7 linked regions of the Homo sapiens genome follow. The protein of the gene in region 5 interacts with the protein of the main gene of each other region in a pairwise test. Each region holds a gene or a part of one and is shown on either strand. Other genes may lie near its edges.

Evidence for each region.
Region 1: the proteins of TIMMDC1 (region 5) and TVP23B interact in binary tests that used the Homo sapiens proteins (3 or more experiments, as listed by UniProt).
Region 2: the proteins of TIMMDC1 (region 5) and KIR2DL4 interact in binary tests that used the Homo sapiens proteins (3 or more experiments, as listed by UniProt).
Region 3: the proteins of TIMMDC1 (region 5) and C5orf46 interact in binary tests that used the Homo sapiens proteins (3 or more experiments, as listed by UniProt).
Region 4: the proteins of TIMMDC1 (region 5) and APOC4 interact in binary tests that used the Homo sapiens proteins (3 or more experiments, as listed by UniProt).
Region 6: the proteins of TIMMDC1 (region 5) and CMTM2 interact in binary tests that used the Homo sapiens proteins (3 or more experiments, as listed by UniProt).
Region 7: the proteins of TIMMDC1 (region 5) and RNF24 interact in binary tests that used the Homo sapiens proteins (3 or more experiments, as listed by UniProt).

The regions. Positions count from the first base shown.
Region 1 is NC_000017.11:18,779,586-18,784,437, reverse strand, and holds the start of TVP23B (Golgi apparatus membrane protein TVP23 homolog B), read right to left. Parts: upstream 3,256-4,852; 5' UTR 3,145-3,255; coding exon 3,133-3,144; intron 3,125-3,132; exon of another isoform or gene 1,889-3,124; intron 1-1,888.
Region 2 is NC_000019.10:54,801,693-54,806,485, forward strand, and holds the start of KIR2DL4 (killer cell immunoglobulin-like receptor 2DL4 isoform c precursor), read left to right. Parts: upstream 1-1,917; 5' UTR 1,918-1,959; coding exon 1,960-1,999; intron 2,000-2,198; coding exon 2,199-2,234; intron 2,235-3,100; coding exon 3,101-3,385; intron 3,386-4,258; coding exon 4,259-4,552; intron 4,553-4,793. UniProt on the Homo sapiens protein: Receptor for non-classical major histocompatibility class Ib HLA-G molecules. Recognizes HLA-G in complex with B2M/beta-2 microglobulin and a nonamer self-peptide (peptide-bound HLA-G-B2M).
Region 3 is NC_000005.10:147,896,539-147,900,608, reverse strand, and holds part of C5orf46 (uncharacterized protein C5orf46 precursor), read left to right. Parts: intron 1-3,567; coding exon 3,568-3,616; 3' UTR 3,617-3,625; exon of another isoform or gene 3,626-4,070.
Region 4 is NC_000019.10:44,940,748-44,945,495, reverse strand, and holds the start of APOC4 (apolipoprotein C-IV precursor), read right to left. Parts: upstream 3,260-4,748; 5' UTR 3,219-3,259; coding exon 3,143-3,218; intron 748-3,142; coding exon 606-747; intron 357-605; coding exon 191-356; 3' UTR 1-190. UniProt on the Homo sapiens protein: May participate in lipoprotein metabolism.
Region 5 is NC_000003.12:119,501,179-119,505,248, reverse strand, and holds part of TIMMDC1 (complex I assembly factor TIMMDC1, mitochondrial isoform 1 precursor), read right to left. Parts: intron 1,718-4,070; coding exon 1,629-1,717; intron 1,296-1,628; coding exon 1,228-1,295; intron 1-1,227.
Region 6 is NC_000016.10:66,577,982-66,582,664, reverse strand, and holds the start of CMTM2 (CKLF-like MARVEL transmembrane domain-containing protein 2), read right to left. Parts: upstream 3,203-4,683; 5' UTR 3,058-3,202; coding exon 2,773-3,057; intron 2,640-2,772; coding exon 2,481-2,639; intron 1-2,480. Other genes in the region: CMTM1 (CKLF-like MARVEL transmembrane domain-containing protein 1), read right to left, coding at 3,664-3,834; CKLF-CMTM1 protein, read right to left, coding at 3,664-3,834.
Region 7 is NC_000020.11:3,928,165-3,932,234, forward strand, and holds part of RNF24 (RING finger protein 24), read right to left. Parts: 3' UTR 1-4,070. UniProt on the Homo sapiens protein: May play a role in TRPCs intracellular trafficking.

The sequences.
Region 1 (4,852 bases), on a different chromosome or scaffold from region 5:
CTTGACCTCATGATCCACCCATCCTGGCCTCCCAAAGTGCTGGGATTACAGCCATGAGCCCTGCACCCAGCCATGACCACTGTATTTTTAACAGGTCATCAGGGAACTCAGTAAGAGCAGTTCCAGTATGGTTGGGAGAGGGGAAGAGAGACTGACTAGAATGAATACAAGAGAGACTGGAAGAATTAAAAGACAAGCATATATGATACAAGTCTTTAAAGGAAAAAGAATGGAGTGACCAGTGAAAGAGCATGTGGTGTCAAGTTTGTTTTGTTTGTTTGTTTGTTTGTTTTGAGACGGAGTCTGGCTCTGTCGCCCAGGCTGGAGTGCAGTGGCGCGATCTCGGCTCACTGCAAGCTCCGCCTCCCAGGTTTATGCCATTCTCCTGCCTCAGCTTCCCGAGTAGCTGGGACTACAGGTGCCCGCCACCACCCCCGGCTAATTTGTTGTTTTTTAGTACAGACGGGGTTTCACCGTGTTAGCCAGGATGGTCTCGATCTCCTGACCTCGTGATCCACCCGCTTCGGCCTCCCAAAGTGCTGGGATTACAGGCGTGAGCCACCGCGCCCGGCCAAGTTTTCATTTTTTAAGGTAAGAGAAATTAAAGCACGTTTATATGTTGATGTGAGCAAACGTTTAAAAGGATTAAAAAACTGATGATACAAGAAAGAGAATTACTAGAACAATGCCTTCCAGTAGGCAAGAGGAGATGGAAACCAGGACACAGTAGACAGGAAGACCTAAGAATGGAGCACTAACAGTCCAATTATCATAAAAGAATATGAGACCCTGAGTAAACATGCAACTAGGCAGCTAGTGTGAAAATTGTCTTCCGACGGCTTCCATTTTCAGTGAAACAAGAAGCAACGTTACCAGCTGAGAGAGGATAAGAGAAGAAACGTTGAAGATTTGAGTTTTAATAGTTGCCTAAGGCGAGAGGGTGAAGGGGCTATGGAAATGTAGAATGACCGCCTGGCAGCACTAAGGGCTCGACTGAGGTTCACGTCACAAATTTATCAAGTGGGAACCGTCGGCCGGGCCTGGCGGCTCACGCCTGTAATCCTAGCACTTTGGAAGGCTGAGGCGGGTGGATCACCTGAGGTCAGGAGCTCAAGACCAGCCTGGTTAATATGGTGAAACCCCATCTCTACTAAAAATACAAAAATTAGCCGGGCGTGGTGGCAGGCGCCTGTAATCCCAGCTACTCTGGAGGGTGAGGCAGAAGAATCGCTTGAAGCCGGGAGGCAGAGGTTGCAGTGAGCCGAGATCACACCATTGTACTCCAGCCTGGGCAACAAGAGTGAAACTCCGTCTCATAAATGAATGAATGAATCAATCAATCAATCAATAAATAAATAAATAGTGGGAACAGTCAACATTGTTGTGTTTCTCCAGCCTCATCCGGCCTGGGCGCAGGTTCAAATGTCAGAAGCATGTGAACCTGAACAACTCCATCTTCAATAGGAGCTGGGTAAAATGAGGCTGAAACCTACTGGGCTGCATTCCCAGACAGGGCATTCTAAATCACAGGATGAGATGTGAGGTCGGCACAAAATACAGGTCATAAAGACCTTGCTGAAAAAACAGGTTGCAATAAAGGAGCCAGCCAAAACCCACCAAGACCAAGATGGCCACGAGAGTGACCACTGGTCGTCCTCACTACTAGACTCCCATCAGCGCCATGCCAGTTTACAAATGCCATGGCAACATCAGGAAGTTACTCTCTATGATCTAAAAGGGGAGGAATGAATAATCCACCCCTTGTTAACCATACCACTAAGAAATACCCATAAAAATGGGCCACCAGCAGCCCTCCAGGTTGCTCTATGGAGTAGCCACTCCTTTACTTTCTTAATAAACTTGCTTTCACTTTGCACTGTGGACTCACCCTGAATTCCTTCTTGCCTGATCCAAGACTTTTTTTGTTTTGTTTGAGACGGAGTCTCCCTCTGTAGCCAGGCTGGATGGAGTGCAGTGGCCCGCGGCTCACTGCAACCTCAGCCTCCCCAGTTCAAGCGATTCTCCTGCCTCAGCCTCCCGAGTAGCTGGGACTACAGGCGTGCACCATCACGCCCAACTAATTTTTGTATTTTTAGTAGAGACAGGGTTTCACCAAGTTGGCCAGGATGGTCTCGATCTCTTGACCTCATGATCCACCCACCTCGTCCTCCCAAAGTGCTGGGATTACAGGCCTGAGTCACCACGCCCGGCCAAGGACCCTCTTTTCGGGTCTGGATCGGGACACCTTTCCTGTAATACAGCTGAATTTAACCATTATTAGATTTTCTCCACTCAAGGCATCTCCTCATAAGCAGTCTTTCCTGACCATAAATCTTAGTTGTCCTATCCTCAGACACTTGTTATTTCATCACCCTGCCTTTGCAATTATCTGAAAATATCTTTGGTTATACAATTTATCGTGTCTCCCCACCCAACCCCCATCTCCTAGAACCCACTTCCCTAACCCAAAAATACGGGGCAAGAAACCTGTCTGTACTGGTCACAACCCTATCCCTGGGCCTACAACCGTGTCTGAGTCATAGTAATCCCTCAACAAATTTTGTGTGAACCGAAAGAAAAAAACACTTAAGACAATCTAAGTGACCATAAACAGTAGTTTTTTCTAAAAATATTATTAATCTTACGAGTCTCTGGTTGCCAACATGTGGACTACAATTAACTCTAAGAGCACAAAGGAGAGAATCACCAACAACATTAGTTTGGAAACAGCAATTTGAAAGCGAGGCTCTGGCGGTGTCGCCGATTCCTACAAAATAGCATCGCACCCCTGGGTGTCAGGAAGCTAAGAGGCCCGCAGGCCGCTCCTCCTCAACTCCACCCCGGCAATAAGGGTTGAGGAAAGAGAGACCCCCACTCGCGCTGGTTAACAATGGGCGTCCCCACAGCCGCAAGAAGTACTTGCTCTGCGCCGCACGGGTCACGCCGCCCCCAGCGGCCTCAGAACCCCCAGCAGCCCTCCTCAGACAACTACCCACAGCCCTCCACTCCCGGCCGCCCCGCTCCTCCTCGAGTTCGAGTAGCGGGCGCGGGGGACGCGGGCTCCAGTCCCACGGAACCTGCAGAGCCAGTCCCAGGAGCCGCCACCCTCCCAGCGAGCCCTCAGCCCCTCACCTGCTGCAACATGGCGGCCCTACGCCAGCCCTACTTCCGGGAGCCACGTCAGCGCAGCAGCGTACGGGTCCGGGTCGGAACTGAGGCGACCCGTCACCAAGGGCCAGCAGGGACCACTGTAAGAGCCTCAGTCCGGCCTCACTTCCGCTTTGAGGGAGCAAATCCAGGGGCGGGGCGAGCGGGGGCGGGGCGAGCGGCCCGGACACGGCGGAGGCGGAGCCTGGAGCAGGAGCGAAAGGGAAAGGTATTGGGGCCACAGTGGGCTCTAAGTGGAAAGCTTCATGGTCTGTTTTACGGAAGTATTTGCTGTCCACCCAATGCAAATTCTAAAGTCGTTCCCCCAGTGTCGCTGCCCCGAATGCAGGGGGGCGGGGTTTTATTGTATAATATAATTTTCTTTAAATATTTTACAAAGACTTACTCCTGTACAGTATTACTTTTGTACTTTAAATTGTAGAAGCAACTTTTTAAAATATGTTCTTGCAGAGAAGTAAAACGTTAAGAAAAACAAGGCAGGAGGACTCTAGAGTAACTAATGGACGGTATTATTATGGGAGGTATAAACTTAGACGCCAGGAGTTGAGACCTTGCGCCCTGGAGCTTAGGCGCCTGGGAACTCTATTGCCAATCATATCACCAACCTTTATGTACTTCTTTCATCAGTTGTAAAGTGGGGGTGATAATGGTTTCCTTACAGTGTAAGTATCTAGTAAATGGGAGACGTTATACTTACTACAGTTTTAAGTCCAGCCGCTCATGCTGTGATCTTGCCTGAACAAAGGATGTGAAATTAAGGGGCGTTAAGTCATCTTTGAAGCGGTGATGATGACAATATCCTATCTGTCTGGCCGAGTCAGACTGCTGTTGGCATAGTGGTATTTGCACGTGTCCTTAATTGAAGGGATTCTATTAAAATCACAAATTTTACGTGGCTGATTGCCAGTGCCATTTAAAACCTGATATTCTAATAATGAAAGGGGGAAAACACACACACGCGTTTCTAAAGGCAAGACATTTCGGCAGCACAATTGCATTCGTGCCCTTGGAGATGAAAAGCTAACAAATTTGGGGCCTGTACGTCCAGCCTGCCCATGGCAGGTTTTCAGTGGTCCACTCAGTGCTGTGGAGTTTTGTGTTGTTTTTCGTAGTTTTTGGTTTTTTAAGACATTGTGTTTGAATTCATTATCGTCTTTTAATTTTTAATAGCTAATTTTTAAAGCTAATTTTGTATTTTTAGTAGAAACGAGGTTTCACCACGATGGTCAGGCTGGTATCAAACTCCTGATCTCAGGTGAGCCACCCGCCTCAGTCTCCCAAAGTGCTGGGACTACAGGCGTGAGCCACCGCACCTGGTCAAGGCTTGAACTTTCTAATGGGCCATAGCTCTTGTAGTGGGCTGCACTCTTCTAAATTACCTGGTCCCTGCACCATAGTCCAAAGGTTTAAGCAGAAACCTCAATGCACTTGATGTTACTGGCCCTCTTTGTACAGAGGATAAATATGCTAATTCTCTTCCTTAGGAGTTAGCCCTGAGAAGGAAAAGCTCAATGTTGTCAAATGCAACAGGTCCACCCCACTGAGGGCTTCCCCTTTTAAATTCTTAATGGGTTTTATCAGGCTTCTGTGCAAAAATACCAGAAAACACCAATGCATGACCCTGATATAATCCCATAACTTCATTTGCCAGAAGAACTAATAGCACTAAATTGGTAGTGATGAA
Region 2 (4,793 bases), on a different chromosome or scaffold from region 5:
ATCATGATGGACACCACAAATACCCTTTTCCTCATTAATTAAATTTGTTTTGGTTTTTTTTTTGAGATGCAGTTTCACTGTTGTTGCCCAAGCTGAGGTGCAATGGCGTGATCTCCGCTCACTGCAACCTCTGCCTCCCAGGTTCAAGCGGTTCTCCTGACTCAGCCTCCCAAGCAGCTGGGACTACAGTTGCGTACCACCCCGTCCGGCTATATTTGTGTTTCTAGTAGAGACAGGGTTTCGCCATGTTGGCCAGGCTGGTCTCGAACTCCAGACCTCAGGTGATCCACCCGCTTCGCCCTCCCAAAGTGCTAGATTTCAGGCTGAGACACCACACCCAGCCTGTACATTGACTTTCTGCCCTTAAACTGTGCTGAAGTTTGTTTCTCAGATGTAGGAGCCTTTGGGCAGAGACTATGGGGTTTCTAGGTATAGAAATTATCTCATCTTCAAACAGAGGTAATTTGACTACCTCTCTCTGCTACTCTCTTCTTACTTGGATGCCTTATAATTCTTTCTCTTTCCTGATGGCTCTGTCTAGGACTTCAAGTACTATGTTGAATAGGATGGTGAGAGTGGGCATTCTTGTCTTGTTTCACTTATGAAGGGAACTTCTTCCAGCTTTTACTCATTCAGTATGATGTTGGTTGTGGGTTTGTCACAGGCGGCTCTTATTATATTGAGTTATGTTTCTTCAATGCTTAGCTTGTTGAGGGCTTTTAACATGAAGAAATGCTTAGTAAAAAGTATGTTCTACATGTGTGTTGAGAAGATCATGTGGTTTTTGTTTTTAGTTTTGTTTAGGTGATGAATCACATGTATTGATTGTGTATGTTCAACCAACCTTGCACCCTAAGAATAAAGTTGACTTGATCATGGTGGATTCACTTTTTGATATGCTGCGGGATTCAGTTCTTAGTATTTTTTGTGGATTTTTGCCTCTATGTTCATCAGGAATATTGGCATGTAGTTTTCTTTTGTTTAATGTTCTTTTCTGTCTTTAGTATCAGGGTGATGCCAGCCTTATAGAATGAGTAAAGGCCACCCTGGGCAAACAGTGAGACCCATCCCTTTTTAAAAATTATGAGTTTTACAAATTTAAAATGCATAGTGAAAAAGTTCTTACAAACTCCAGAAAGATAGGTGTAAATAAGAGACATTTGTAAGAATGACAGCACATTAAATGTGTAGATTTCAACCTTCAGTTATTGCAATATTCCAGTATCAAGTTGGAGGATGTTATCAGTCTGATATTTTTTCCTCAAATGAGAGAGAGAAAGAAAGACACACAAACAACACAGGGAGAAAAAAAGCACACGTTACAGAGAGACAAAAAGGGAGACAGGGAACTGTGAATTTGGACTCTTGTGTCATAAGACAAATTCTAGATAACACGACCAGACCTTCAATTGACATATTGTGTTTTTGCTAATAAGGTGGAATTCTATGATGCGAAATAACTATATAGTCTTTTCTACTGGGATTTAAATCATTTTATCTGTTTCTGGCTTAACAGGAAAAATACAACCATGGAAAATTATGATGATTTATTTAATACGATTGCTCTATAGTGTTAATAAAACCTATTAGGTATTTTGCATATTACATATCAAGGAGAGTTTGAATCTCAGGTAGAAACAAAAAAAAATACATCAAATTTCCTCATGTGAGTGCAGAATTCAATCGTCCCGTGCAGGGGTAAGTGAGTCTGAGATGTGTTTTGAGCCTGGCCGTTGCGCATGATGTGAAGTGACAAGTCTAGTCTGCAGTTTTCAGAAACCCTCATTCCTCCCTTGACTGATTCACCACTTGAACCTCATATGACGTAGAAGAAGCCTACCTATGTCCCCTTCACATGTTGTGGTCAATGTGTCAACTGCACGATCCGGGCCCCTCACCACATCCTCTGCACCGGTCAGTCGAGCCGAGTCACTGCGTCCTGGCAGCAGAAGCTGCACCATGTCCATGTCACCCACGGTCATCATCCTGGCATGTCTTGGTGAGTCCTGGAAGGGAAGGAGCACCAGGGTTACACTATGGGCCTGCAGATTGGGTGTCTCCCCAGCAGAGAGCCATGTTCTGAAGCAAGTGAGTGGTGAGGATGAGTTAATTTTCAGTCCAGCGTGGCGCCCAGTGGCTCAGGAGGAAAGGGTAGGTTGCTGCCGAGATGAATAGTTCATCATGATCTTTCTTTGCAGGGTTCTTCTTGGACCAGAGTGTGTGGGCACACGTGGGTGAGTCCTTCCCCAAATGATGGGTTGCCATCTTCACCCCAATACAAGTGAATTTTCCAGAAATGGGAGGGAGGCAGCACAGAGGGTGGGCTGATGGGCTGACCATGGGAAGGCCTGGGGGGAGTCTCTCATGAACTAGTAAGAGGAGATCCTGGGAGTCTCTCATGAACTAGTAAGAGGAGATCCTGGGAGTCTCTCATGAACTAGTAAGAGGAGATCCTGGTATGCTCAGCCCTCTGTTTTGTCTTAGCCCTCCCCAGCCTTTCTTCCCCATGGCTGAGTTGAGCTCTGTGTGGCCCAGGCGGGATACTGAGGTGCTCAAAGCTGGGGTGTGTGGGGGGATGTGGTGTCACCGACAGAGGAGGGAAGGGTAGCAGTGTTAGGAACAGCAGGTCCTCTGAGGACAAGAGGGTAACTCACACCCTCCAGCGTTTCCATGACGGTAGGGGCTGCAGTGTGGCTGCTGTCATTCTGCCAGAAGAGGTGGGGGAACCACAGCCACGACCCTGCCATTCCAAATCCTCTGATGGAGCTCAGTTGTTTATTGTGGTTCAGGCATTAGCTAATATTCCATTCACAAAGGTCATACCCTCCACCCCATGTCTACTTTGTGTTCTTTGGTGTAACTAATCTTGCAGTATTAAAATCTAGTAAGAGTCCCTTACTCAGCACCTGCTCAGTTCTCAACTGACACTTTTGTTGTAGGGAGACGCCACGTCTATGCGGGATGGGTCCTTCCTGTAGCCCCAGGCACCCAGGTGTGGTAGGAGCCTTAGAAAGAAGAAATGGGGAGAATCTTCTGAGCACAGGGAGGGAGGGGCAGCTCAACATACTCCTCTCTGAGGCGGCATCTCCTTCTCCCCAAGGTGGTCAGGACAAGCCCTTCTGCTCTGCCTGGCCCAGCGCTGTGGTGCCTCAAGGAGGACACGTGACTCTTCGGTGTCACTATCGTCGTGGGTTTAACATCTTCACGCTGTACAAGAAAGATGGGGTCCCTGTCCCTGAGCTCTACAACAGAATATTCTGGAACAGTTTCCTCATTAGCCCTGTGACCCCAGCACACGCAGGGACCTACAGATGTCGAGGTTTTCACCCGCACTCCCCCACTGAGTGGTCGGCACCCAGCAACCCCCTGGTGATCATGGTCACAGGTCAGAGGGCTCCTGTCTGGGCTTCTCCTTGTCCCACCTCCTGAGTCCCAGAGCTTCTGGTGGGGGTGTCCACCAGAGTCCGATCATCCAGGCCCCAACTATATTTGGGGTAAAGGGGGATTGAATACAGGGGAATGGGTGCTGTGTTGGAAAGAATAACTGTCCCCATCGATGGCCACATTGTAATCCTTGGAGCCTGTGACTATGTTATAGGGCAGGGGACTGAAGGGGAAGATGGAGCTCAGGTTGTTGATGAGTTGACCTTGAGATGGGGAGATGGCCTGGACTCTCCCACTGGGCTCAGTGTAATCACAAGGGTCCATATGAGTGGAGAAGGAAGAGGAGAATGGGGATTAGAGCAGCATCGTGGGATACTCCACCAGCCACTGTGGGCTTTGAAGGTGGAGGAAGACCACGAGCCACGAAGGGGCTGGAGAAATCAATGGAACTGATTCTCCCGAGTCTCCAGAGGGAATGCAGCCCTGCAGATGCCTTGATTGTAGCCCAGGAAGAACAGGGTCTGATTTCTGTCTCCAGAAGTGGAAGGGGTCAGTGTGTTCTCTCCTGCCGCCATGTTTGTGATAATTTTCTCCAGCAACAACAGGAAACCAACACAGGAACCCAGGTGAAGGACAAGTTAAAAAACCAAACAAGAAGGTTGGCTACCCTGAGATCAGCAAGGGTGCACTGCTGATGCCACCACCAGGCTGGAACCACATAGGGAGGGATCGACAGGAAGAGTTGGGGGTGGAGGGTGAGAGAGAGAGAGAGAGCACTAGGCCATAGAGCAGGGCAGTGAGTTCTCAGCTCAGGTGGGAGGGGAGCTGTGACAAGGAAGAACCTCCCTGAGGAAACTGCCTCTTCTCCTTCCAGGTCTATATGAGAAACCTTCGCTTACAGCCCGGCCGGGCCCCACGGTTCGCGCAGGAGAGAACGTGACCTTGTCCTGCAGCTCCCAGAGCTCCTTTGACATCTACCATCTATCCAGGGAGGGGGAAGCCCATGAACTTAGGCTCCCTGCAGTGCCCAGCATCAATGGAACATTCCAGGCCGACTTCCCTCTGGGTCCTGCCACCCACGGAGAGACCTACAGATGCTTCGGCTCTTTCCATGGATCTCCCTACGAGTGGTCAGACCCGAGTGACCCACTGCCTGTTTCTGTCACAGGTGAGGAAAGCCAATGTCTGTCCCATGTCCTATGGTCCTAGAGCCTTAGCTGAGGAGCTTCCTGCTGATGATGGAGAGAAGCATGGACAGATGTGGAGAGAAGATGCAGCATGGTGTGAGGGTGGGATCAGGGCACAGGATGGCAGACAGGGCACCTCCAAACCCTCCTGCATGGCCTGCATGGAAGCTTGCAGTAAGGGCTCCGGGTACCCAGGCAGATGGAGAAAGTGGTCAGGACAGA
Region 3 (4,070 bases), on a different chromosome or scaffold from region 5:
GTAATTCTGATATACAGAAATTTTCAAAAGCCATGCCTTGATCAGATGTTCTGGGTTGCATGGATGGGCCTTAAAGATCCACAAAACCTTTACATTTTTATTAATATTTTGTGTCAGTGTGATTTATTTATTTATTTATTTTTGCATTTTCCCGGGGAAAGTGTTCATGACTTCTATTAGATTTTCAAAGGGGTCTTTAACCAATAGCAGATTAAGAACCACTTCCATGTAGGAGTAATCAGGGGTTTTGTAATCTCTGATCTGCTTAAAGGGATAGATTGTCATCTGATTGGGCAGTGTTCTACAGGCAATCCTTCTCCACAAATTGTTAAAACTCACAGGTGCTTTTTTTTAATTGTTACATTTCCTACTGTGGTTGCTTTTGCAACTGTTATTTTTCCAAGACTGTTAATGTAAACAAGAAGGAAAGTCATAGGCCGACAATAGGAGCACCACCCATTACATACAAACTAAAGATTAGACTCCAGTTGAATTAGTATTGTTACATCCACACAGCAAAACAAGGAGTTAGAACACTAAGAGTTCTTTTCATTCCTTCCCTAGGGAATTTTCCAAGTATAAAATAGGACATTTTTCTCTGTGTTAACCATAAGAGTCGACTCTCTGATATGCTAAAGAATTGCTGTCCGCTCTAGGCTCAGAAATGGCCCTTCATCTACTGGTTTCCCTTTCCCTCATTACATTCTGAGTAAATGACCTTCTTTCTGTTGCTAGAAATTATTACCATCTCAGGCTCTCTTCCCTTGCTCTCCCTCCTTACTAAAATACTCTCCTTTTCTAATGACTAGTTCTTGAGCTTACAGCTAATCTAAAAGTCACTTCCTCAGAAACTATTCTATGACCATTCTTGTTAATACTGTCTTCTTCCATTCCCACTGCCTGTTATTCTCTATCACTTTACCTTGTTACAGTGTCATAATATTTGTTACCATCCGAAATGACTTATTTATTTTTAATCAAGTAGCTAAGTGAAAGTAGAGACCAAATCACCTGACTGGTTGCAAGAGCACAGTACATGGCATATAGTGTCAGGCACTTGAATTAATTAATTAAGGAAAGATATCTTGCAGATCAGACCTAAAGCCCATCTACCTCAATTTGACTGAGAAATCCTGAAGGATCTTTGCTCAAAGACACAGCAATATCTGCTCAAGAGATAAATCTGCGGGTGGTAGAGCCAGGATCTAAAACATACCCATAACTCCCTGCTCAAGGGAAGACCATAAGCAAAATAGGGGGTGGAGGATAGGAGGAGACGTCAGAAAGTATTGCTAAGCACTTAACATGTACAAAGCAGGGACACGGATTGTGAAGGAATAGTCTAGGCTCTTAATCCCTTCTCCTCAAATAATTTGCAGTCCTTATGGTAAAATTACTTAAGCCAATGCACAATGCCATAAATAAAAATGAGTAGCAAGATAAATGTCAGCCAAAGATCACAGGCAGTTTCCAGCGAAAGGAGTTCTCAATGGGTCCAGTGTGCTTAGGGAAGTGTTTATGGCAAAAGCAAGATGTAATTTGGGCCTTGAATGACTAAACAATATTTGATTTGGAAGAGAGAATGAGAGGAATAACAATGATTCATAAAGGTGGGAATTTTACTTTATTTACTCCAATATGTCTGATGCCTAAGTGGTGTGTCAGATGCATAGTAAATGCTAGAGACATGCATTTGAAACAATGAATAGACTGGATTGTTCTCTCCACTTGCTTTTGGATCAGCTTGGAGCTACCTAGACTGCATTTTGCTCATCATTTTTCTGAAAAATATACATATTCTTAACTCCTCTCACCCTTTGAGAGCCCTTAATTCTAGGGAATATTTTCCCCTCTGGGTTCCATGATGTATTTTCCTGGTTCTCTCTCTACCACTAGCCATTCTTTCTCATTCTTTTTATTTGACTTTTCTTCATGCACCTGCCCTCCAAATGTCATTGTTCCTCAGAATTCCAAACGTGCTTGGTTCTTCACATTGCAGTTTACACATTGGGAACACTGCCTATAATCTAATGAGTTTCAAATTCACATTTCTGTTGCAATTTTTTCCTGAGCTCCAGATGGAATAACTGATTGCTTGCTACAAAATTCCATCGTTTTTCTACCACTATTTCAAATTCCACTGGTCTAAACCCAAGCCCATCATCTCACTCAAAACCTTCCTCCATATCTCATTAAGTCACATCATCATCCACCCAGAATCCAGAAATCTAAGGATCTTCTCAAATCCTTCCTGCTCATCATCACCTTCATCGAATTGCTGAATATTCTACCCTATATACCTTCCTCGGGTATATGTATATGCACCCTATATACATTTCTCTTCCTCAGCTCCACTGACTAGTTGGTCAAGTTGAGTCCTTTATCATCTCTTTCCCAAGTTCCTTTTATTGGATTTCTAATAAGTTTCACTTTTCTCTGTCTCTCTTTTTATTGGATTTCTAATAAGTTCCACCTTCTGTCTCATCAATTCATCTTCTACCTACTACCAGAACTTTATATCAAAAAAATTTAAATTTGGTCATATCACTGCCATGCTTGAAAGTTTTTCATGAATTTCCATTGCCTCCAAAATTCAAGCAAATGCATTAGGCTGATGTCAAATGTCCTTCTCTGATGCCAATGTATCTTTCAGTCACATTTCTCACCTCTGCAACCTGAAGCCCCAATGACTAATGAGTTTCATTTTAAAGCAGGTCATGTTTGTATAAACCCCCAATATCTGTGCGTGTGATTTTTCCCTCTGCTGAAAATGCCTAGCCCCAAAGCCAAAACCCCACTCTGTTCACTTGGCAAGTCTAATCATTTTCTAAAGCCCAATTCAAAAACAAACTCTGTAAAAAAGTCATAGACACTTAACATCAGAAATTTCAGTTTTTCATATTCAGGGATTTCATAATCCTTTGCAGAAATCTTCATAACAACTTTTATCCCCACATTGTATTAAATTACTTGTATCTGAGTTGTCTGTTTTCTCCACTAGACTGCAATTCACAAACCATATTTTAGTTATCTTTTACGATCTCAGCAGATACCCTGGTACCCAGTCCTTAAGCCATAGGGCATAATGTTTCTAGCATTTAGTAATGACTCTGGAGAGCCAAATTTTTAAATTTTCTTTGTAACTTACCAGCCATGTGCTTTGGACAGGTTGTTTAATCTTTAAGCTTCAAAGGTTTTCTCACACATAAAAAGAGATAATAAAGATGCATTCAACAAATATTTATTAATTTCTACTATTTGCCATGCACTGTTCTAAGTGCTGGGGATATATTACTGGAAAAATATACCAAAATATATGACTTTATGGAGTTTATGTGTGAATAGATACCTAACTAATGGGTTTGTTGGCAGATGCAAAAAAGATAATTATGCATAAATTACTTGCCCACTATGAACTATGTAGAAATTTTAGGTCTTATTTCTTTCTGACATAGAAAAATCTAGAGAAGAACAGTGTGGCTCAAACATTATACAGCGCCTTAGTGATCATTCTAACACTCCTGTTCAGTCTCAATTGTAATTCTTATTTTCTCTTTTTTTCTCAAGAGGATTTATGGAATTTGATGATAATGAAGGAAAACATTCATCAAAGTGACATCCTCAGGTGATTTTTCACTTAAAATTTACAACTGAAATAACAGTGTATTGGACAAAGGAAAAAGAGTCTGTCCAGTTTTATTTAATAATTTTGGTTACCCATGTCTACCTACAAGCAGAAAAAGTACATTTTAAAAAAATAAATGAATATATTTTTTTCATGTACAAGTTTCTAATAATAAAATTTTCTTAAGAGAGGAGGTAGAGCTGTGAGATGAAGTGAATAAGGATGGCAAGTTTGGAGACCTGATTCCTGTCACAAATCTGCTAGGAACTTGCTTTGTACAAGTTCAGCCTGTGAAATGAGGGGCTAGCACGCACTAGCAATCTAAGGACCCACGTAATCATGCAGTTAGTTACTCATAAGAAGAGTGAAATTTGCTGAACCTAATTCAGAGAGAAAGGATAACAAACTTTCTATCTCACGCAGTTAGATATATGGGCAAACAATA
Region 4 (4,748 bases), on a different chromosome or scaffold from region 5:
ACAGGTGAGACTTTATTTATTGGAGAAGTATGAACTTTTTTTTTTCTTTTTGTTTTACCCCCAAGAGATCTCGCTGTGTTGCCCAGGCTGGTCTCGAACTCCTGGGCTCAAGCCATCATCCTACCTCAGCCTCCTGAGTAGCTGGGACTACAGGCACCCGCCACAACCACACCTGGCTTTTATGAACATTTTAACCCTGGTCCTTGTCCCCACAGACAAGCCTGGGGCACAGGCTGTGGGTCTTCTTCAAGAGGCTGTCTTTGGATTCGAGGAACCAGGCCTTGGTGAGCGGACCCAGGTCCCTCAGGTGGTCGTCATAGTAGGTCTGCATGAAGCCCCGGAAGGTGCTCGGGCTCCTACAGGAGAGAGGACATCACAGTGGAGGCCCCAGCTCTCCCCAGGTGTTCTCTGCCCCATTTATCCGCTCCTCTCTGTGACCTAGGAGTTCCTGCTCTCAGCTCTAACCCTCCACTCCTCCCAGACCTAGGGGTCACAGCCCCACTCCCACCCTTTCCTCCTCCCTGAGACTCAGGGGTCCAGGCCCCAGCCCCTCCTCCCTCAGACCCAGGAGTCCCCTCCCACCACCCAGCCCAGCACACCCTCACCAGAACCATTGCCACCCGTCTCTGGTCCTGTTCACCACTGTCTCCAGCAGCTCCTTCATCCTGCCCCTCACCAGGCTCCAGCGACTCATCTTTAGCTTTGGTGGGGGGCTCAGGGTTCCTTCCTGGGCCTCTGGCTGGCATGCTAGGTGGAACCAGAGGGCAACTTGGGTAGGCTGGGACCCTAGAATCCCCTTCTCCCTTTCCCTCCATGCTCATCCTGTGTCGCTCCCGGTGGCCCAGGGGCAGCCCCCTGCCAGTCCTCTTGCCTCCTGCCTTTACCCTTATGTGTCCCCTGACCGCTAACCCCTCTTTAACCATCAGCCATCTCTTTTTTTTTTTCTTTTTTCTTTTTTTTTATGAGACAGAGTCAGTCTCTTGCTCTGTTGCCCAGGGTGGAGTGCAGTGTCATGATCTCGTCTCATTGCAACCTCCACCTCCTGGATTCAGGCAATTTTCCTGCCTCAGCCTCCCGAGTAGCAGGGATTACAGGCATCTGCCATCATGCCCGGCTAATTTTTGTATTTTTAGAAGAGATGGGGTTTTGCCATGTTGGGGCCTCGAACTCCTGACCTCAAGTGATCCACCCACCTCGGGCTCCCAAAATGCTGGGATTACAGATGTGAGCCACCCCGTCCGGCTGGGCCATCTCTTCACCTTGTGTCAGTAGTCCCTCCTGTCACCCTGTCTGCCTGTGGTTCCCCTCTAATGGCCTCTCTAATTGCCATCCTCTGATGCCTCCCTTCACCACCTGATTTTGCTGCCCAGGAACTACCCCCTTCTCCCTTCGTTCTCCTGTGACCCCCACCCTGTCTGAGCTACCTCTGTGGACAGTGGAGGGAGAGCAGGAGGTGACTTTCTGCCCCCAGGGGCAGACATTGGCTTAGCCTTGCTGTCAGTTCCTCTTTCCGGGCCAGACCTTCTACCCACGCATCTGGACAAAGCCTCGCCTACAGAGACCAGCCGTCACGCGGGGGCCACATGTAGCTAGCTGTGTGCCTTGGCCGGTGACTTATCCTGTCTCCCCAGGACTGTTTCTCCTTTTGTAGAACGGGGTAATAATATCTACCTCAGGGTTATCGTGAGAATTAAGAGTTACTACATACGATGCACATGGAATGGTGCCTTGCACATTGTCTACATACGTGTTAAATTTTTTTTTTTTTTCAGACGGAGTCTCGCTCTGTCACCCAGGTTGGAATGCAGTGGCGCGATCTCGGCTCACTGCAACCTCTGCCTCCCGGGTTCAAGTGATTCTCCGGCCTCAGCCTCCCGAGTAGCTGGGACTACAGGCGCATGCCACCATGCATGGCTAATTTTTTGTATTTTTAGTAGAGATGGGTTTTTACCCATCTGTTAGCCAGGATGATCTCAAATCTCCTGACCTTGCGATCCACCCGCCTCGGCCTCCGAAAGTGCTGGGATTACAGGCATGAGCCACCGTGCCTGGCCCTGTATTAAAAATTTAAATTTCTACTGGATAATGCTGATCTAGAATATGATCCCATTTTAACATAAAGTACATGGCCGGGCGTGGTGGCTCATGCCTGTAATCCCAGCACTTTGGGAGGCCAAGGCGGGCGGATCACCTGAGGTCAGGATTTCAAGACCAGCCTGGGCAACATGGCAAAACCCTGTCTCTACCAAAAATATAAAAAAATTAGCCAGGCATTGGCCAGGCGCAGTGGCTCACGCCTATAATCCTAGCACTTTGGAAGGCCGAGGCAGGCGGATCACGAGGTCAGGATATGGAGACCATCCTGGCTAACACGGCGAAACCCCGTCTCTAGTAAAAATACAAAAAATTAGCCAGGCGTGGTGGTGGGCTCCTGTAGTCCCAGCTACTCGGGAGGCTGAGGCAGGAGAATGGCGTGAACCCGGGAGGCGGACGTTGCAGTGAGCCAAGATCACGCCACTGCACTCCAGCCTGGGTAACAGAGCGAGACTCCGTCTCAAAAAAAAAAAATTAGCCAGGCATGGTGGCGTGTGTCTGTAGTCCCAAATACTCTGAAGACTGAGGCAGGAGAATCCCTTGAAACGGGTAGGCGGATGATGCAGTGAGCCAAGATCGCACCACTGCTACCACTGCACTCCAGCCTGGGTGACAGAGTGAGACTCCGTCTCAAAAAAAAAAAAAAAAATGCATATGCAAAACACAGACGTACACACCAGCACACACTCACCCCCTCACACATGTCCACACACTCAAATATTTTGCACACACATACCCCACAGAGAGACAGGTGCACACAAATACACATATGCACACAGACATGCACTTTTTTACCACGACTGCATACTCCCACTTCCACGCACGCACGTGCACACACACAGATGATCCCAGTTTGTACCAATGTGACATTCACACTTCACTCTCAGCCACCGACACACACACTCCCCGACACGCACATGCATACGCACGCCATGAAACGCACACACTCCGTACTCATGTCTCACGTGGCTACAGAGCCACAGGACACACAGCCACACTCACACCCACCAGGTGTGGGCCCCACATCCCTCCACCCACTTCTTCTCACCCCCAATGCAGGCCAGGACCAGCACGCAGAGGCACAGGGCAGGCAGGGCCTGGAGCCTGTTTCTGAGGAGGGACATTTCTGGGGGTTCCGTGCCTCTGTCCCTCTGTGCTCAACTCTGCGGGCCGGGGGAGGGGAGGCTGCACAGAGCAGGGCCCTCCCCCGGCCACCTCCCCGCTTGGCAGAGACTTCAGAGAGCAGGGCCCAGGTGACAGTGGCAATCAGAGGTCATGCCTCTGTGGGCCTCCCTCCTTCTCACCCTCCCACACAGTGCCCTGAGAGAAGACAGAGGCTCTTGAGCCTCCTGCACTGAGGCAGGTTCAAATCCTGTCTCCACCTCCCATGACAGCCTCATTTGCTGGCCTCAGTTTCCTCCTCCATAAAGTGGGAGGCACAGTACATATTTCAGTATATTACTTGAACAAATACAAAGAAAGGCGCAGTGGCTCACGCCTGTAATCCCAGCACTTTGGGAGGCCGAGGTGGGCAGATCATATGAGGCCAGGAGTTTGAGACCAACCTGGCCAACATGGTGAAAAACCCTGTCCCTACTAAAAATACAAAAATTAGCCAGAAGTAGTGATGCGTGCCTGTAATCCCAGCTACTTGGGAGGCTGAGGCAGGAGAATGGCTTGAACCCGGGAAGTGAAGGCTGCAGTGAGCCGCGATCACACCACTGCACTCCAGCCTGGGTGACAGAGCAAGACTCTGTCTTGAAACAAAACAAAACAAAAAATGAAGAAAGCTCTTACCGTGGAGACTGGCAATATAGGTGCTCAAAGATCATTGCTGTTGGCCAGGCGCGGTGGCTCATGCCTGTAACCCCAACACTTTGGGAGGCCGAGGCAGGCGGATCACGAGGTCAGGAGATTGAGACCATCTTGGCTAACACGGTGAAACCCCATCTCTACTAAAAATATGAAAAATTAGCCAGGCGTGGTGGCAGGCGCCTGTAGTCCTAGCTACTCGGGAGGCTGAGGCAGGAGAATGGCGTGAACCTGGGAGGTGGAGCTTGCATTGAGCCGAGATCGCGCCACTGCAGTCCAGCCTGGGCGAAAGAGCAAGACTCCGTCTCAGAAAAAAAAAAAAGATCATTGCTGTTATTATTATCTTGTGTCTAATTTCTCCTAGTCACTGGGCTGCAGGGCCAGGCTTGTGGTAGGGCCTCAATAGGGCCCAAGGGTTGATGAGAGGAAATAGCAACACAGTCTCATGTCTCCAGCCTCTGTTTCTTCCTAGGTGGGCTCGAGCCCGATCACTTCCAAGCATTCCTTGAGTTCTCAATTCCAACTCTTTCTCCTCTGGGTGACTCTGGCTTCAGATGGACCTGGGCTTCGAATCCCTCACTTCTTCACCGTGTGACCTGGGCAAATACGTTTTCTTTTCTGGGGCTCAGTTTGTTCAACTGTAACACGGGGTTGATAGGGAGCACCTGCCTCCCAGTGTCCTCATGCAGGACGGCTGAGGCCTATGCAGGAGAGCTGCAGGTGCACATAGTAGGAGGTCATCAACATCAGGCCCAGGGCCAGGGCGGTGGCTCCCACCTGTAATCCCAGCACTTTGGGAGGCCGAGGCAGGCGGCTCACTTGAGGTCAGGAGTTCAAGACCA
Region 5 (4,070 bases):
TTATTTTTTAAATCTGACAAGTAAAAATTGTACACATATGGTGTATAACATGTTTTGCAGTATGTATATATTGGGGAATGGCTAAATTAAGCTAATTAACCTACACGTTACTTCACATACTATTTTTTGTGGTGAGAACACTTAAAATCTACTTTTTTTTTTTTTTTTTGAGACAAGAGTTTCACTCTTGTTGCCCAGGTTGGAGTGCAATGGCGTGAACTCAGCTCACTGCAACCTCTGCCTCCTGGGTTCAAGTGATTCTCCTGCCTCAGCCTCCCAAGTAGCTGGGATTACAGGCACCTGCCACCACACCCAGCTAATTTTTGTATTTTTAGTAGAGACGGGGTTTCACCATGTTAGCCAGGCTGGTCTCAAATCACCTCTGATGATCCACCTGCCTTGGCCTCCCAAAGTGCTGGGATTACAGGTGTGAGCCACCGCTTGGCCAAAATCTACTTTTTAAAAGCAATTTTGAAGTATACAATACACTGTTAGTAACCATAGTTACCATGTTTTAAATAGATCTCTTGAACTTATTCCTCCTGTCTAAATGAAATTTTGTATCCTTTGACCAACATCTTTTCCAACCCCATATCCAGTCTCTGGTAATCACCATTGTACCTTCTATTTTTAATGCTCATTAAAAAGAAAATATACATATATATACTAGAGGCAGAGAGCTTTAAAATAAAATCCAAGTTCTTACCATAAAAAATCTAGTCCATTCCTATAGTCCTCACCAATCTCATCTCAAGCTACTCTTTCCCTCACTCACCACGTTATTATCCTGCTTTTAAGGAAATGTTTTGCCTTAGAGCCTTCCCCCTTGATGTTCCCTCTATTTAGGACACCCTTCCTTGCAAGTCTTGCTCCTTCCTATTCTTTGGTATCAGCTCAAATGTCACTTCCTCAGAAAGGCCTTCTTTGACTACCCTGTCCATATGAGATCCCATTGTTCCACCGAATTGTTACTTTCTATCACAACAACCTGTATTATCACATACATATTAGACATTAAAATTCAAAGAAAGCAAGGGCCTTGCTGTTTTGCCCATTGAGTATATCAAGGGTGAAGCACAACACTGTCCATAAATACATTTTGCATCAATGTTGATGAGATGTAATGGGAAGCCAACCAAAGAATTCAGTAGTTCTGATGTATAAGTCCTTACACATTTTCTAAACTGTATTTGAGAAGACTGAAAAATATAAACAAAAATGTCTTACCTCCTGCAATTACAAAATGGCTTAAGGCATCTTTATTTCGGTATACATTCAGACTAGTGTTCACTGTGCTGGTAAAAAGGGAGGAGAAGGAAAATATAAGATTTAAAGCATATCCCATTTACCTTCTTGAGTGTTATTTTCACTGACTTAATAGATTTAGAAAAGCCTACTATATCAATCCCTGTTCCTAGCCTAGGCCCCTTCAATGTGTTCCAGACATGGTTGTAAAACCATAACTACACCAGTCTTTTACACAGAGAAAAGTTCTTGAAAAAAAAAAAAAGGCATTATTAATCACTTTCATGTGGGTATTCAGTTTTCATAACCCCACCTGCTCAAAAGACACACTCCTAAAACAATATCAAGAAAATTCACTATCTCACAATTCAGAGTGAACTTACTTGAATATAGTCACAAACACTGCAGTTCTCCAACCCCAGCGCCAGCCATAACGAATGAAGCCTCGTGTGGCAGCACGATGTGCAGATTGCTAAAGTTAATTAAAAAACTGTGAGGTTCTAAGACACCATCATATTTTCCTTATTCTAGAACTGCGGTAGAGGAATTTTAGCTATGGATTAGTCAGGTACACCCAAACAGATAGAAATACTAGAAAATCTCTAGAAATACTATTCTTTAAGTATTGAGGCTTACGTAAAAGTTCCATGTGTAGCCTATCCTATCAGGAGATGAAAAAATGGTTGAGTATCCCTTATCTGATACTTGAGACCAGATCCCTTATCTGATACTTGGATTTAGGATTTTTTCAGATTTGGGAATATGCGCTTTTAACACTTACTGGTTGAGCATCCCAAATCCAAAAAACCGAAATCTGAAATGCTCCAATGAGCAATTCCTTTGAATGACGTGTCAATGCTCAAAAAGTTTTGAATCTGAGCATTCAGGATTTCAGATTTGTGCTGCTCAACCTGTAATGAATTATAAATCTACAGAATAAAATAAGAATCCATGAGTCCCTACTGATAGAAATAAATTATAAATAGATAAATAAATATGTAAATAGAGGGGGGAAGGGAAAACACTTCCTTAGAGCATAATACTAACCAATAAATGTAGAAAGAATGATAGACTTTAGAAAATGCCCATTTGGCCACCACAGTCATAATTGTTACAGGAAGAATCATCATTAAATGCTAAAACTGCCTGGGTATGGTGGCTCACACCTGTAATCTCAGCACTTTGGGAGGCAACTAGGGAGGATCACTTGAGCCGACAAGTTTAAGACCAGCCTGGGCAACATAGCGAGATCCTGCCTTTACAAAAAAAATTTAAGAATTAGCTAGGCATGGTGGTGTGTGTTTGCAGTCCTAGCTACTCGGAAGGCTGAGGCGGGAGGAAACCTTGAGTCCAGAAGTTTGAGGTTGTGGTGAGCTATGATCGCGCCGCTGCACTCCAGCCTGCACTGAGGCAGGAAGACCCTGCCTCAAAAAATTTCAAAAAAAAAATTAATTAATTAAAAAATAAAAATAGGCTGGGCACAGTGGCTCACACCTATAATCCCAACCCTTTGGGAGGCCAAGGAGGGGGTGAACTGCTTGAGCTGAGGACTCTGAGACCAGCCTGGGCAACATGGCAAAACCCTGTCTCTACAAAAAATACAAAAATTAGCTGGGAATGGTGGCACATGCCTATAGTCCCAGCTACTTGGGAGGCTGAGACAGGAGAATCGAGTGAGCCTGGGAAATGGAGGTTGCAGCAAGCCAAGATTGTGCCACTGTACTCCAGCCTGGGCAACAGAGTGAGACCCTGTCTCAAAAAATAAATAAAGGAATAAATAATTTTTAAAAAAATAAAAAAATTATAAATGCTAAGAATTTAGAATAGTTTTTAGATAGTAGAAATATTATAGTTTATAATAGCATTTAAGTAGTAGAAATTTGATGAAAAGCAGGATATTTACATAGTCTCAAAGGAACTAACAAGTACTCAAAATACTTATAAATTACCAAGGAAAAACATAGTAATTTTACAGTGTATAGTTGGCAGAGGCCATCTTAAGCAAGTCACTGAAGTAAACATCACCAGTAAAGGGACAGAGATATCATGGGTTTCTAATTTAATTTCAGTTCTAGGGTATTCCTGTCAAAAAACATAGTCTGAATGCAGTCATGAGAAACCATCAAACAAACCCAAATTGAGGGACATTCTACAAAATAAATCACCCATAGTCAAGGCCATGAAAGACAAAAACAGAGAAACTCTTCCAGACTAAATGAGACCAAAGCAGCATAACAGGCAAATTCAACATGTGATCCAGGGTCAGATTCTGGACCAGACAAAAAAAAATTTAATTAATTAATTTTTTAATAAGAACTCAAGCCTAACTTCTGAAAAATACATTTTTTTATTTATTTTTAAAATAAATGATACTGTGGGATAACTAGCAAAATTTACAGGTCTTTAAATAAGATAATAGTACTATATCTGTGTTAATTTCCTGATCTTGATATTATAATTGTGGTTGTATAAGAGAATTTCCTTGTTTTTAGGAAATAACACACTGAAGTATTCATCATGTCTATAACCTACTGTCAAGTAGCTCAGAACAAATTAGTACATATTATACAGAGGGAGAATGATAAAACAAACATGGTAAAATGTTAACAATGGAGAATCCGGATGAAAGGTATATAGGAAATCTTTGTACTAGTTTTGCAACTTTCAAGCCTGCTATAATTTCAAAATAAAAAGTTAAAAATTCTCTGAGCTTTAATATTCTCACAAAAGAACTGATGTACAGATCTAATGATGTAACAAACGAGTTAGCACTCTATAAAGTTATAAATGTTAACTATTGCTTTAGTGTGAGCTCCTATACTCAT
Region 6 (4,683 bases), on a different chromosome or scaffold from region 5:
AGTGGCACCATCAGAGCTCTCTGTAGCCTTGACCTCCTGGGTTCAAGCCATCCTCCCACCTCAGCCTCCTGAGTAGCTGGAACAACAGGCATGTGCCACCATGCTTGGCTAATTTTTAAATTTTTTTGTAGAGACAGGGTCTCCCTATGTTGTCCAGTCTGGTCTCAAACTCCTGGACCAAAGGGACCCATCCACCTCAGCCTCCCAACGTGCTGGGATTACAGGTGTGAGCCACCACACCCAGCCCAACAACCACTGATGGATGTTCTCACTCATTGTTCTGTCTCAATCTCTTATTTTCTCTCTCTCTGTGTGCTGTGTTCTGGGTAATTTCCCCATACCTTTCAGTTAACAGTTCCCTCCTTCAGCTATGTCTGATCTGTTTTTGAATTCATCTATTGACATTTTTATTTCAATAACTATATTTTCTATTCTAGACACTGTACTTTTTAAAAATCTGTCTATTTTGTCCTCATAGTGTCTTACTCTTTTCTCAGGACTCTTATGTCTATAATCCCTTAAAATATATTATTATTTTCAGACAGCTCTTCTATTATCTCATATTCTCAGGATTCTAATCCATTTGTTGTGTTTGTTGATTCTTAGTAATGGGGATTTTTTAAAATCAGGTGTTTAGTAGTTTTGAATTATTAGTTCATTTTTGACAAGGTTTTCCCCCCACCCCCACTGTGAGAATCTCTTCATGCCTTGATTGTGATTTTGCATTTGTTTCTATCAGGAGTCCAAGGATATCAGCAGAATGTCATCAGACTGGGATCAGTTTTTATGGTAATTCCCAGGGATGAAGGTTTCTGGGCTGCATGAAGGTTTCTAGGCTGCAGATAACAAAAATTCAAACTCCAATCTGTACAAAGGGCAGGCTTAAGCTTTCTATTTCTCAAGGAAGACTTCCTCTCCGCCCACTCAAAGCTCAGGCAGAGATGAACATGTTTTCTTATTCCTCTGTGTTGGGAATAAGAAGGGTATGTGTCTTTGTCCATCTTTTCCCTAAGGAGGTAGTCTTTCCAGGGCGCTGGCTTTATACAGGGTTTTCAGTTCTAAATTCCCACTTTGCTTAGGATCAAGGCCTTATTTCCTGACTTGAGAGTGCATGAAAATCCAGGCTGTAGGTTCCTGAGACAATACCTCTTGGACCATTCCCACTCATACTTTGTAGCTTATGTGATCACTGCCCTGTTTGCCATTTCTGGCGCCTGTGTGTTTTCATTTCTTTTTTGCCAGCTCATTCATTCAGTTAAAGCAATACTGGTTACATTTCCCCTGGTATTTTTAGGTAAGCACAGTGGGAAGATGTTCAGGGTTCATTGGTTTTTCATCTTGCTGGAACTAAAAATGTCTTCTCAGGCTCCTTGTTTAGGAACTTGTCCTCTGCCTGTCCTTTTACCTTGTCCTCTGCTTGTCCCTTTTCTGAGAGTCCTTATTTGGCCCTCCTGTCCTTTCTCCCTGTATCGGAGGTCCTCATCTGCTTCACCAAGACCTCTGGATCCCTGGACCCTAATAGTTTTTAACAAGAAGGCAGGATGAAATGTACTCATAAAGCTAAGTTTGAAGCTTTTTTCTGCTACTTACCAGCTGAGTGACCTGGGGGCAAGTTACTTGGCCATTCTAGGCCAATTTCCTCATGTGTAACGTGAGTGAAACAGTGAACAAGAGGGCTCTGGAGGCAGGCTGTGAATGTGCAATGAACAAAGGGACTTGGGAATTGGGGTCTTCATTGACTGGCAAGGGGTTAGGTGGTTGTGCCCTGTGGTTAAACAGGTGATGGGCAGGGATTCAATTCCATGAGTCCTCAGGCACGGTGTCAAGCAATTTACATTTAATCCTCAGGATTGAATGTCAGTTCTGCAAGGAATGTGACTGTCTCATGTTACAGATGAGGAAACAGGCTGGGAATGGTTTAGTAACTTGCCCAGTTCTGTCTCTTTCCACTAGATGACTGCTTTGGGCTGAACATCCTTCTGATCCAAACATCCTTTATAGGGATATTCACTGGAGACCTAACGCTGCTTTAGAAGTGATTTTTAAAAAAAATTCCCATTTTGTTTTATTTTATTGACTTATGGGAGAGTAATTTTCTTCTTTGAATTTTGGGAATGGGGTCCTTCTGGGGTGATCTCCTGTCAAGTGTGAGCTGGCACAGGAGTTCGGAGGAACAGCTGGTTGCTACACCTCCCCTTCCCCTAAAGAGAACAAAGGCTCAGGCCCTCTTTGACCACCAGGTAAGTAAGAGTTCCCCACTCTCACTCCAACACACAGATAGGCTTTTTGGAGCATTTTCTGCCTAGCTACCCCTCTTGCACCCAGCTGCCTCTGCCTGGGCCCCACTGATGTTCTGAGTCCCTGACCCAGGCACAGATATGGGAGGTGAGGTGTGTCTCTCTGTTTGGTGACTTTCCAGGTGCCAAGACACACCTGATCAGCATTCTGGATGCAGGCACTCCCCATCACCCCTTACTTACAGAAATGGGCCACAGGATGAAGGGTATGTATCTATGAATGGCAAAGCTGTACAGTAAGATGAAGAAGCTGAAGAAGGATATCTCCATGGTGATGATAAGCCTCAAGATGGGGTGCACGGTGAGTGAGGACAACAGTATCATTGCAGCTATTAGGCAGCCCTGCAGTGAGACATAGACACCTGAGCCAGCAGCAAGGGCCTTTCACCATCTCTCTGAGGACCCCTGGAGCCTACTCCTCCTTCCCCCCACCCTCGGCCAAGGCCCCCCACCCAGGGATACCAGTTTAGCTCACCAAACTCCGAATCTTGATCTCAGCGTGCCCCAAGAGCCAGAACTCTTTATTGCTGTCTTTTAATTCCCACCGGTAGCGGCGACACCCCCTCCTCGTGCCCACTTCGTGCTTGGGCTGCACCGCCTTTTGAGGTTTGTCCGATGGCTCCTTATGGTCCTGCACCGCCTTTTGAGGTTTGTCCGATGGCTCCTTACCGTCCTTCTTGTCTTCCTCGGGTTTGGCCCCGGGTGGAGGTGGAGCTGGTGCTGGCTCTGGCTTGGCCCCCTTTGCCGCCTTAGGTGCCATGACTGACTCGGTGTCCTTGGCTTCTCACAGCTGGCCTGTTTCTTCTCTCTCCTGCTGTTTCTGGGTAGGCCAGGCCTACTAGAGTGCCTGGTGTCCACCGAGCGGCTCAGAGGGCGTGCTCAGCTAACTGCCAGGACCACCGAATGCCAACTCCCGCGCCCTCTCCACGCGCGCCCGTCTCCTCGCGCAGCTCCCATCCGCCCGGCAGCGGCCGGATCCTCCCACCCTCCACGCGCCGGCCCCCGACGGGCCCCAACTCCGTTCCCAACCCGCCGGTCCCACCTCCGCGCGGAGCTGCCCTCGCGGTCCCATCCCGGCGTCTCCAGGTGGCCCCAGGTCTGTAAGCCGCCGCTCCGCTGCGGGGTCGGGGGGCTGCGAGCACCGGGTCACGGCCCTGAGCTCCGCGGGCGCAGCGCCAAGCGCAGGAAAATACAACGCGACTTTCACACAAGGCAACGAGAGGAAGCAGGTGTTCTCGATAAAAGCAGCAGCCCTAATTTTATGGTCACATTTAGGCTGGAATGGGTGACAGCATGCGAGCTCGGGGGTGGGCTCGGAGGCAGCGATTCGACAGACACGTGCATCTGCTAGGGCGCCGGGCTGGCTTCAGGCGGGCCTCTGCGGGGCGTCGGGGCCGGTTTCGGGGTAGGCGTCCTTGGCGGGGGAAAGCTTCCTTTCAACTTCGACTCCCAGGAATCTTTTCAAGTTGGTCCTCATCTTCGTGGTGACCACAAACGCATCGATGCAACACACGATTACCGCTGTGAGACACAGGGACTGTCAGATACAAGACCATATGCGGGAAGGAAAGACGGGGTTATTTTGCAGCTCAGTAGCAACCTCTCGAACCTATCCCTATCCAGGGTGGGCGCTGCGGGTGGCCTCCTGTCCCCTCTGACCCTTCACTACTTTCTTGGCGCCTGCCCAATTGGCTGCTGCAGGCGGATTCTGCCTTTCCCAGAAAAAGGGATTTTGGAAGTGGGGGATTTTGTTGCCAGTAGTAGCCTCGCTTGATGTCTGAGGCACCCGGAAAGGACTAGGGAAGGGCAGTGGCCCTAGGTGGCTGCAGGTAGGGGTTAGGTCCTGAGAAGCCCTCTCCGTGGAAAGACTTTTGGGCTATGTTTGCAAAGGGCAGGAAGGAGTTCCTAAGGGGAGGAGGAGGACCCAGGCACTGGACTAGGGTCTCTAAGGAATCTGGTGTGGCCAGGACCTCCAGAGCCGCTGAGAAGGGGGCAGAGTTGAGGCTGGAGAGGTGCAGGATCTGGGACTCTATCAGGAGGTCAGGTGTGAGATTCAGAAAACCTGCTTGCAGTGTTCATGAGGTGAATGGAAGGTGAACCAGGCTGGAGGCAGGAAGACCAGTGCGTGGTGGGGTGGGATGCTGCCATCCAGGTAAGAAATGGATACCTGGGGGTGGGAACCCCTGGCAGTAGAAGGAGTGATAGCGGAGTCAGCCGATGGGGACCAGGGGCTGATGGCACAGATATTCCCCTGTGCACTCCGGGACTCTTGACAACCTTGGATGTTTCTCTTTATGGTCACTTAATTCCTGGCTGCTTAATGAGCTTTTCCTAGGTATGTCTTGCCCCAGTGAATCTGTGAGCTTCCCCAAAGGGGAAAGGGCTC
Region 7 (4,070 bases), on a different chromosome or scaffold from region 5:
AATCTGTAACAGCTACAGGAAAAGACACACCCAGGGCCAGAGATTCTACAAATGCCAGAAGAGTGGATGTGATAGAGAATTTTTTCTCAAGTTTTGGGTTAGGGCACCAGTTGCAATTTTAATCCAGGGGAGGATCTGGGCTGCTGCTGTAGGGGGCAAGTACACCAGGGAGGTGGGTGTGGACAGAGGCACTGGGCAGCTGCTGGGAAGCGAGGCACAAGTCTGTGCCCCTACTCCCAGGGCTGCCTGGAGGAAGCAGCTCTAACTTTCATCAGCGGGGACAAAAATGAACTTAAACTAAAAAAATTATTGGCCGGGCGCAGTGGCTCACGCCTGTAATCCCAGCACTTTGGGAGGTCAAGGCAGGTGCATCACGAGGTCAGGAGATCGAGACCATCCTGGCTAACACGGTGAAACTCCGTCTGTACTAAAAATACAAAAAATTAGCCGAGCGTGGTGGCGGGCACCTGTTGTCCCAGCTCCCGAGGCGGGAGAATGGCGTGAACCTGGGAGGCGGAGCTTGCAGTGGGCCAAGATCGTGCCACTGCATTCCAGCCTGGGTGACAGAGCGAGACTCCGTCTCAAAAAAAAAAAAAAAAAAAAAAAAAAAAAAAATTGTTGGGGTAATTTCTGTTGTCAAATGGAAAACAAGGCATAAAGGGAAAATTCTGTAGGAAGCATTTTCTTTTCTTGTGTGTTTTTTTGAGACGGAGTCTCGCTCTGTTGCCCAGGCTGGAGTGCAGTGGGGATCTTGGCTCACTGCAACTTCTGTCTCCCGGGTTCAATCAATTCTCCTGTCCCAGCCTCCTGAGTGGCTGGGATTACAGGCATGCGTCACCACACCCGGCAAATTTTTGTATTTTTAGTAGAGGGGGTTTCACCATATTGGTCAGGCTGGTCTTGAACTCTTGACCTAAGGTGATCCGCCTGCCTCGGCCTCCCAAAGTGCTGGGATGTTGGGATTACAGGCGTGAGCCATCGCGCCCGACCAGAAGCATTTTCTTTTCAAAGTGTGTGCACAGAGTGAGGAGGCCAGCCTGGGCAACATAGTGAGTTGAGACCTGTCTCTACAAAAAAATAATTACGAAAATTAGCCAGGTGTGCTGGTGTGCACCTGTAGACGCAGCTACAGACTGAGGCGGGAGGATCACTTGAGTCCAGGAAGTTGAGGCTGCAGTGAGCTACAATGGTGCCACTGCACTCCAGTCTGGGTAACAAGACCCTGTCTCAACAACAACGAAAAGTTGGGAGGGAAAGGGAGTAGCTCCATGAACTGACGCTGGACATTCAGGCATATCCACATGAGACTCACTGTGCACTTGCTCAGTAGCTAAGATGTCTGCCCCACAAAATAGAAGCCTTCAGTTGCTGCTGCTCAAACTCCTGCATCAAAGACACAAGAGCTTGCCTAAGTGACCACAACAGTTGCAGCCACACATCACCACTGGTCCTCACTTGGAACTGGCCAAGGTAGGGGAGGGGCCAGCAGCTGTCCAGGCACCTGCAGAGGCTGCTCAGAGCTGGGAGAGGCCTGTGCCACTGCTGTCAGCTACAGAGCCTGATCTTGAGCATCCTGTCGCAGATAGAAAGTCAATCAGAAAAATCTGGTTGTGCTCTTGGATTAGCTGGGCATTTGGGGTAAGGGAGGGACTGCAGATTCTGATTTGTACAGAAAACTAAAATTTCAGTATGTTGCAATAAAATGAAAATATGTCTTACTCAACAGGAGTGTGATTGCAAAAACATCCCCCAATTCTGGGTTCACATTTTGTATTCTGATTTCTGGGATGGCTCTTCCCACATTAGTAGGAGCGTTCCTTGAATACACTTGTCTGGTATCACATGAGTAGAAAAGGAGAAAAATTATATAGACACACATACACATGTGTGTACATGCATAAATGATCTCTGGAAGGATACCCAAGGAACAAACCAATAGTAGGTATTCATGGAGTGAGGAGCGGAGCTTGCTAGGCATCAGGAACTCAAGAAAGGCTTTTAACTACTTTATGATTTGTGAACCACATGAATGGATTACCTATTCAAAACATTAAGAAAGAAATATTCAGCACTGAACAACCAAGTCAGAGTTCACTGTGGGCAAAGGCAGAGATGACCAAGGAAGAAAGGGGCCAGGTGAACCTGGGCCTCAGGGAAAGCCCCTACAGCTCAGGAAGCTTTTTGGCTGAGGTTCTGTTCCTATCAATCATGATGGCAGAGGAGCCCATGTAACCCAGATGATGTTATGTGGTATCAGCAGCCCCCATGACACCAGGCCTGCTGCCTACCAGGCTCTGGGCACCAGCTAACCCCCACAAGAGGTGCCAGGGACGTTACTACAATCCCTGGGTGGTAGCTAAGGAAGCTAAGGAAGAGACTGAGAGGCTAACCTGCAGAAGGGCCTAAGGCTAGTGAGTGACAAGAGGTGATTCCATCACTCTCTGCCTGGAGCTCTGGGTATACTGCCCTGGATGTATCAGGATGTATTTCATAATGCCCAAAAAGCCTCTGAGAAAAATAATTCCTAGTTGTTCAAAGTAGCTTAGAGCGGGATCAGGCCAGGGAGATGACATGATTTTGAAGTGGGGTTGTGAAAAAGGACAAGGCCCGAGGCTATTTCTCTGATGGATCCAAGGGGCTTGGCACTGGGGAAAAGGATCTTCTTGTCAAGAACAGGGTATCCGGCAATGGTGGGAGGTCCCCTGTATCCCTCAGCTCAGACCTTCCCAGGGGCCACCTGCCCCTATTTGGCCATTTCTGTCCTGCCTTCCCTGGCTAGGCAAGCATAGGCTTCAAGGACCTTATCTGCCAGGGACAGGCCTAACCAAATCACACGTGGCAAAGAAAAGCAGCAGATGTCAACTTCCTAGTGTCTGATACTGACCCAACCAGGAATCAAGTCAGGCTGGTTTTGTTCCCTGTTTCTGAAGGCAGTTGAATTCAGTTGTACCCCTAGCAACTACTAATGGTTCAGCCACCCGTGGAGTCCAGTTGGGGCTGAGTTATGCTCCACTAACCCATAGCAGACCAGCAACATTCTATCTTTGAGCTGCTTAAGAAACACACAAAGGATACCAGCCAGTGGTCCAAGAGCAGACCAGAATCCCCACGCAGCTACACAGTAACAAGTCCCAGCAACTCCTGAAGATAGATGCGGAAAGGGTGACTTTACCATGGGGTTCGAGTCTGAGCCAAGAGAGTTATAAAGGGGTCCCTAACTCATTCCTTTTTCAAAATAAATAAAAAAAGGACTGTCTTTCAAACAAAAACCCTGCGATTTTAATGAGAATTAAAGGAGGATGTAAATTAAAAGGCCTGTTTGTCTGTACAGCAATGCAGATGCGCAGGCCCATCCTGGTGGAGGACCCAGATGCAGGGAGCAAATATTCGGGTTGTGTTGCTAAGAGTCGCAGGAACTACTGCTAGTGATACTAGGCTTGCTGCAGGAGGATGTCACGCTGAGAAAGGGAGATGACTAGGAGCAGAAAAAGTACTCTCACTGTTCCAGCTTCCAGCCCAATCCTAGCAGAATGAATGCATTTTAAAACCAGTCCACATTCACATGTGCTGAGAAGGTTGTTAGTGGTCCCTCATCTGGGCAAAGCAGACCCAAGGTGGTGCTGAGTGCAGAGTGCAGAGCATTCTTGTGCTCTCCTCTCATGGCTGGAACTATCTGGGCTTTGCGCCCTGGTCCAGTGCTACGTATCAACCCCCTCAACATGCCTGTGGCTCTGACACGGGGGGATGAATTAACTTGCCTCTGTTCAAATATACAGACTTGGTGAGGCTGTCTTTTGTTAGTACTGATGCACAGGGACAGAAAAAGCCTGCAACTTTCAGTTGGGAGAATCCTATAAAAGCTGTGAGCAGCAATAATTTGCAGTATTGATCATAGGAAGGGAAAAAACATTCTCTTTCCTATTAGAGCCCCATAACAGAGGTGACATCTGTCCCAAGGCCATTCCATGGAAAATGGTGGCTGCTGGCAATTAGTGAGGCTAGTCCAGAAGCAAGCCTCCTTCTGATATTGGTCACTGAAAACAGCTCACTATAAACGGGGTGTTTTGTGG